2 linked regions of the Homo sapiens genome follow. The protein of the gene in region 1 purifies or fractionates together with the protein of each later gene. This does not show direct contact. Each region holds a gene or a part of one and is shown on either strand. Other genes may lie near its edges.

Region 1 (3,800 bases):
AAAATTTAAATAGAGAACTTTACATTATAAAGCTAAAATAGGATGACAAGTCTTGCTTATCAAAATCTAAGAACCAAAATGATCAATAAGAGGGAAGACACTGTCTTTATTACCAAATCTAAAAGTATTTATGCTTTCCCTTATCTTCTTCACTTGTGTAAATGTAATCAACCAATCCTTTTATTTAAACTGATAGCACTGCAGCCTATTAACCAGCAGTTATTTACCAGGCAACAGGCACTGTGTTACGGTGGCAATTAAGGGTGAACCAAACAGTCTCCATTTAGCCATGGGCTTTTATTTTAGAAGAGCATGCAGTCACCAAACAAATAATTATGAATATGAAAAGTGTTAGTTACTAAGCAGTGGTGCAGGTCCCAGGGGATCATTTAGTAGGGGCCTTTCCTAGTCAGGAAGCAGATGGGGTGGAATTCAGGGAAAGATTCTTGAGAGATGTCTTTTACCCTACATCCAAAGGTTGGGAAGGGACAAACTGATATCCTATTAATGCAACCTCCACTCTGAGCACATCTGGTCCAAGTTCATCTTGTTTCCCTTTCCCAGCCATATTTTCTGTTCTCCTTGGCCTAGCCTCAAAATTACTCTTATCTTAGCAAGGTTTTCTAATGGATTTTAAAACTACTGGCAGGATTATCATCCTAAATCAAAAAAAAACGTGTTCCATGACCATGAACACTCATTTTCACCTTAAGTAAAATAACAGGCTTTATCTAAGATACCTTCCACTGCTAAAATATGTAACTAGAAAATGAACATTAGAGAAAAAAAGGAATCAATAAATGTGTGTGTTCTGACTGCTCCACCAACTAGCCATCCCCAGGGAACAGGGAGGCCTCTCCTCAGGCCTCCCTGTTCCCTGAGACACAACAATACTGAAATTAAGCCTATTAATCCTACTATGGCCTCTAAGTGTGCAAATGAAAACAGTTACAGGTATCTCATTTGAAATCAAAAGCTAGAAACAATAGGTAGGCATAGTGAGGAAGGCACATCTAAAACCGAGATAGGCAGAAAGCTAGGCTTCTTAACCCAAACAGCCAAGCTGTGAATGCAAGGGAAATATTATCAAAAGAAATCAGAAGTGCTACGCCAGTGAACACACAAATGTTAAGAAAGCAAAACAGCCTTACTGCTAATAGGGAGAATGTTTTAGTGATCTGGATAAAAGATCAAATCAGTCACAACATTCCCTTAAGCCAATACCCAATCCAGAACAAGAACCCAACTCTCCTCAATTCTATGAAGGCTCAGAGTTCAGAAGAAAAGTTTGAAGCTAGCAGAGGCTGGTTAATGCAGTTTAAGGAATGAATTCATCACCGTAAGATAAAAGCGCAAGGAGAAGCAGCAAGTGCTGATACAGAAACCATAGCAAATTATCCAGAAGATCTAGCTAAGATAATTAATGGAAGTGACTAATCAACAGATTTTCAATGTAGATGAAACAGCCTTCCCAATACAAAATGTAGATGAAACAGCCTTCCCAATACAAAATGTAGATGAAACAGCCTTCCCAATACAAAACAGTTTGTATTGCTAGTGGTCTGGTTTTTCTAATCTTTTCAAAAAACCAGCTCCTGGATTCATTGATTTTTTTAAGGGTTTTTCGTGTCTCTATCTCCTTCAGTTCTGCTCTGATTTTAGTTATTTCTTGTCTTCTGCTAGCTTTAGAATTTGTTTGTTGTTGCTTCTCCAGTTCTTTTAATTGTGATGTTAGGATGTCGATTTTACACCTTTCTCGTTTTCTCCTGTGGGCATTTAATGCTATAGATTTTCCTCTAAACACAGCTTTAGCTGTGTCCCATAGATTCTGATATGTTGTGTCTTTGTTCTCATTGGTTTCAAATAACTTATTTACTTCTGCCTTAATTTTATCATTTACCCAGTAGTCATTCTGGAGCAGGCTGTTCAGTTTCCATGTAGTTGTGCAATTTTGAGTGAGTTTCTTAATTCTGAATTCTAATTTGACTGCAATTAGAATTGTGGTCTGAGAGACTGTTATGATTTTCTTTTGCATTTGCTGAGGAGTGTTTTACTATTTTAGAATAAGTGCAATATGATGCTGAGAAGAATGTGTATTCTGTTGATTTGGGGTGGAGAGTTCTGTAGATGTCTATTAGGTCCACTTGGTCCAGAGCTGAGTTCAAGTCCTGAATATCTTTGCTAATTTTCTGTCTCGTTTGTCTAATATTGACAATGGGGTGTTAAAGTCTCCCACTATTATTGTGTGGGAGTCTAAGTCTCTTTGTAGGTCTCTAAGAACTTACTTTATGAAACTGGGTGTTCCTGATCCTGGGAGCATGTATATATAGTTAGCTCTTCTTGTTGCATTGATCCGTTTACCATTATGTAATGCCCTTGTCTTTTATGATCTTTGTTGGTTTAAAGTCTGTTTTATCAGAGACTAGGATTGCAACCCCTTTTGTTTTTTTTGTGTTTTTTTTGCTTTCCATTTGCTTGGTAAATGTTTCATGTGTGTCTTTGCATGTGAGATGGGTCTCCTGAATACAGCACACTGGTGGGTTCTAACTATCCAATTTGCCAGTCTGTGTCTTTTAATTGGGACATTTAGCCAATTTACATTTAAGGTTAATATTGTTATGTGTGAATTTGATCCTGTCATTATGATGCTAGCTGGTTATTTTGCTCATTAGTTGATGCTGTTTCTTCATAGTGTCAATCATCTTTACAATTGGTATGTTTTTGCAATGGCTTGTACTGTTTTTTCCTTTCCATATTCAGGGCTTCCTTCAGGAGGTCTTGTAAGGCAGGCCTGGTGGTGACAAAATCTCTCAGCATTTGCTTGTCTGGAAAGGATTTTATTTCTCCTTCGCTTATGAAGCTTAATTTGGCTGGATATGAAATTCTAGGTTGAAAATTCTTTCCTTTAAGAATGTTGAATATTGGTCCCCACTCTCTTCTGGCTTACAGGGTTTCTGCAGAGAGATCTGCTGTTAGTCTGATGGGCTTTCTCTATTTAAAAATTTTAAGTAACAATTCCAGACATTCATCAAAAGATATGCTTATCTTCATGCACCTCCTAAACACCTACTAAAACGGCATCTACAAATAATGAACCCCCTTCCAAATAGAGTGAAGAACCACTAAATTAGAGAAACATCTTTACTGACCTCTAGTAATTTCTAATTCATAATGAAATATATAGACTAGTCACTAAACTCTTAAAAGCACTGATGCTATAAGAAACGTAGAGAGCATCCACAAGCACTAAAAATGCAAGAAACTTAAAAATTGGAAACGTGTACACACAAAAACACAGTATTTTAACTTGTTTTTTATTACTGATAAGCACAAAACAAATTCCAAATGCTGAAATAACCTAATAATCTACCTAGATCAAAATCAAATATTTTATGTGATCAATAAAGGAAATGTAAAATCCAAGAAATTTAGAGTTTAACTGTACCTCAATTGTAAATCCAGTTCAATCTTATTAGTACAGTGTTAAACGATTTACCTAAAGTCACACAGGTAGTAAGAAGCAAATTTAGGCCAAGCTATAATTATCTTTACAACAGTCAAAATGAATTCAAAAGATAGATTAACACAACCTCCCTCAAGCCAATATCCTTTTGTTGAAGTTAAACTTTATTAGTTTGGGGTGGTTTTTTTGGGTTTATTTTTTGTTTTGTTTTTGTTTCTGTTTTTGTTTTTGCTTATTTATCATCTGTTTAAGAATTTTTCAGATTTTATAAAGGTAACGGTTTATATATTACATAAGAGCATTCCAGAAGCCAACATTATGCTGGAAAAATAATGTT
Region 2 (3,718 bases), on another chromosome or scaffold:
ATCAGAATGCTTAAGAAAAAAAAGCATGCCTGAAGAGGTCACCCCTGCACCTGGAAAGGAGTAAAGAGTACTTTGCAGACAAGAATGACATTATCCTTAGGAAATATATTTAAATTTCTCTTCAATAAATAGACAAACGGGTACTTTCCCTGAAGTCCCACTCCATAAGCATAGCCTTAAATTTTTTATTCTGCAAAATATCCAGGGTACACATTTCCAGGAACACTGATCAGGGTCCAAGGATTCAGCATATTGGGATAGTGAATGGTCTCTGAAGACCTATAGATAATTCAGTATCTACTCAAGGAGGTGATCTTTAATTAACTGCACTACTGTGACTGAGAATAAGACTTAGCACAATACATTACCACCAACAGTCATGGATCTGGTCAAAGGAGGCTGTAGCAAAGTTTCTTCATCATTAAATTGCTTCTTAAGTTCTTCTACAGATTCCAAATGGAGTTGGAGAAATTCTGCTGTTGCTGCTGATGCTTCTTCTTTAACAGGATCTATCATTCTCTTCAGAAGTACTAGGTCATCCTTTCGGACTTTCAAACAAAGTTTCTCAATTTCTCGGATATTGGATCGGAGTTGCTATAAAAGAAAAAAATCATTAATGCCACCATTTCTTAGTATAAGATATCTTTCTTTTCAGAAGTAATGTTATAATAGTTGTGGATGGAAATTATAACAAATATCTCCACAATAGAAGGTGTAGCATAATACTTTTACATTTTCCATGTCTCTGGCTGGCCAAATGCAGCATCTTTGGAACCCACATGCTCATACTTTGAATTTATTTAGCATTTTTCCTTCATTAAATGTGGTTATACAAAAATAAATGCTCTTCACAATAAATCAAACACTACAGAAGCATATGAAATAAAAATGATATTCTCACTTCACCTATCCCACCCCCTCTTAACTCAATACTCCCACACATTTCTCACGGCTCATGCACACATTTAACATATATAAGGCTTCTCCCTTTTTATTAAAAAATGGATTACATTATACACAGTAATCTATAATTTGCCATTCCATACTCAACAATATTATCCCTCCTGCTCAATGGTTACACTATATTCCACGGTGTAGTGTAGAATAATTTACTCAGTCACTCCTTCGGTGATCAACATTCATGTTGTTCCTAATTTTTAGTTATTACAAACTATGAAACAAATATCCCTGCATATAAGTCCTAATTTACTATATTAGTATATATTAACATTATAGTATACACTAATATTAATATATTATTTTGTGTAGGAAAGACTCCCAGAAACAGGAATATTCAAATGATAATGTGCATTTTTATTTCAGAAGCTATTGTTGTTTTTTTCCCAAAAAGCAGTAACACTTCACACTAGCATCAAGGTATGATTGCCTATTTCTTCACATGCTGCCAGTCCTGCATGTCATCTCACTGTTGCTTTACTCTGCACTTCCCTATGAATGAAGTTGTTAGATTTTTATCAAATGATTTTCCTTCTTTTTGAGAAATACCTACTGGCTTAGTTATAAATTTACCTCTAATATGTTGCTATAATGAATTATGTACAGATTTTGTAGTGTAGAGTCATCTTTATATTCCTGGGATAAAGCCTTTCTAGTCAATATATATAATTTTTAAATACAATGCTGAATTCATTTGCTAGTATTTTATTTGAAACTTTAGCACATAGGAGTGTGTGTGTGTGTGTGTGTGTGTATACATGTGTGCATGTACACAGTTTGTGTATTTATACTATCTTTACTAGGTTTAAATTTGCTTTAACAGGTTTAAGGTTGTGCTAACTTCATAAAATATACTGGGGAGCTTTCCCTCTTTCTCAATGGTCTATACTTTGAAAACAAAGAAACAATCCCTTTAAGATTAAATAGAACAAATTTGCAAAAATAATCAAAGTAAGAAAAGTTATATGTCTATTCATATATTTTAAATTATTTTCCCCTAAAGTGTTTTCACAATATTAATGCAAATCCTACACAGTAGACAGACCAGTTAAGTAAGAATTAATTTTTCAAGTGCATACTCTGAGTGAGGTGTTACATTATTACAGTCCAAATTATTACATATGGAAAAAGCAAACAAAAAAAAACCTGTTTAGGATTTACTTAAGTTATCTAGTGGCAAAACTGGGGTTAAAACCCAGATATTCCGATAGGGCCAGCAATCTTTCCACTAAACTATAATAATAATGTCTATCTATGTAGTATCTTAATATAATACAATCTAAAGTTTCCATTTTACTGTAGTAAAATTAAAGTCAATTCTAGAAAAAAAAATAGTTTAGTTACAACCTAAAGCATCTTGTAAGATTTTTCTGGGTGAAAAAATTGTGCCTCTATCTTACCATGACTCTATACTTCCTGTAACCTTATCTTCAGTCTCTTACCATTCTAATATGAGCTGAAAAACCTAAGGATAATTAAACTGTAGATTCAAAATATGTGAAATGTAGGTATTAATATGTTAAAATTATATAACCTTAAAGGGGGCATAAGTGAGCATCTAATACAACCTCACAATTTTACAATAAGGAAACTGGAGTCTAGACAAACACAGTGGCAGAATTTGGACTACAGCCCAGGCCTCAAGTCCCAGAACAATACTGTTTCCAACACACCACCATTTCCTGGCTATGTGACTCCTTTCTGGACCATAATTATAAAGCTTGGTTATATAGTTACCAGTCTACAGAAATATTTTAGGTAATATTATCTTGGAGAAGCATTAAAAATTTTCTACAGCCAAACTTAATGAGCATTTGTTTGTGACACCTTCCTCACTTATGTAATTTGTACATATGTCTGTCCCCAGTCAAATTACAGTATCCAGCTAAGAACTCTATTACTATGAGTAATGTGGAAAATTTTGAGGGAGAGAAAGAAAAAACCCACTGAAGTATAAAATCTGATACTATAATAACAGCAACAATGATAACAAAAACATAAATAGTGGCTAAATTTTAATCAACACTTAAAGTTATCGATTGTGCTAACAGCTTTACGTCTTTTATCTTCCCCTCACAATATATCTTTGAAATGGATATTACTATTATTCTCATTTTATAGAAGAGAAAATTAAAGCAAGAAGTTCAAAAAGTAGCCCAGGATTACACTGCTAGTAAATAGTATAGGCAAGAATCAAATCCAGACCACAGATCTTGTGTTCTAACTACTTTATTACATAGCAAACACCATCCAACACAAACATAATGCAAATCACACACACAAGCCACATATGTAATTTAAAAATTTTTTAAATTACATTAAAAAAGTAAAAACAAGGGAAATTAATTTTAATAATATTTTATTTAACCTAATATAGCTAAAATACTATTTTAATATGCAATTATAAAACTTAAAATCTTTTACATTGTTTTATTTGTAGTAAGTCTTAGAAATCTGGTATATATTTTACATTCACAGCACATCTCAGTTCAAACTGGCTACATTTTAAGTGCTCAACAGTCACATGTAGTTAGGAGCTACTACATTGGATAGGGCAACTAGGGAATCTCTCTAAAATCAAACAGAGGGAACAGGATGGTAAAACCATATATGAAGAACATAAAGTCAGGTGTTTCTGCTTCTGAAAACAGCAGGCTAGGTGATTCAGACTAACCTTCCCACTAATGGCTACTTCAAAAGTTGAACAAAAATCAAATCACAAAACAAACCAATAGGAAAAAAAAAAAAAACTTGAAAAGTA

Evidence for each region.
Region 2: the proteins of DIPK2A (region 1) and STX17 purify together in Homo sapiens (affinity purification with western blotting; one study listed by BioGRID). This does not show direct contact.

The regions. Positions count from the first base shown.
Region 1 is NC_000003.12:143,981,562-143,985,361, reverse strand, and holds part of DIPK2A (divergent protein kinase domain 2A isoform a precursor), read right to left. Parts: intron 1-3,800. UniProt on the Homo sapiens protein: May play a role in cardiomyocyte proliferation through paracrine signaling and activation of the PPI3K-AKT-CDK7 signaling cascade.
Region 2 is NC_000009.12:99,947,936-99,951,653, reverse strand, and holds part of STX17 (syntaxin-17), read right to left. Parts: intron 595-3,718; coding exon 369-594; intron 1-368. UniProt on the Homo sapiens protein: SNAREs, soluble N-ethylmaleimide-sensitive factor-attachment protein receptors, are essential proteins for fusion of cellular membranes.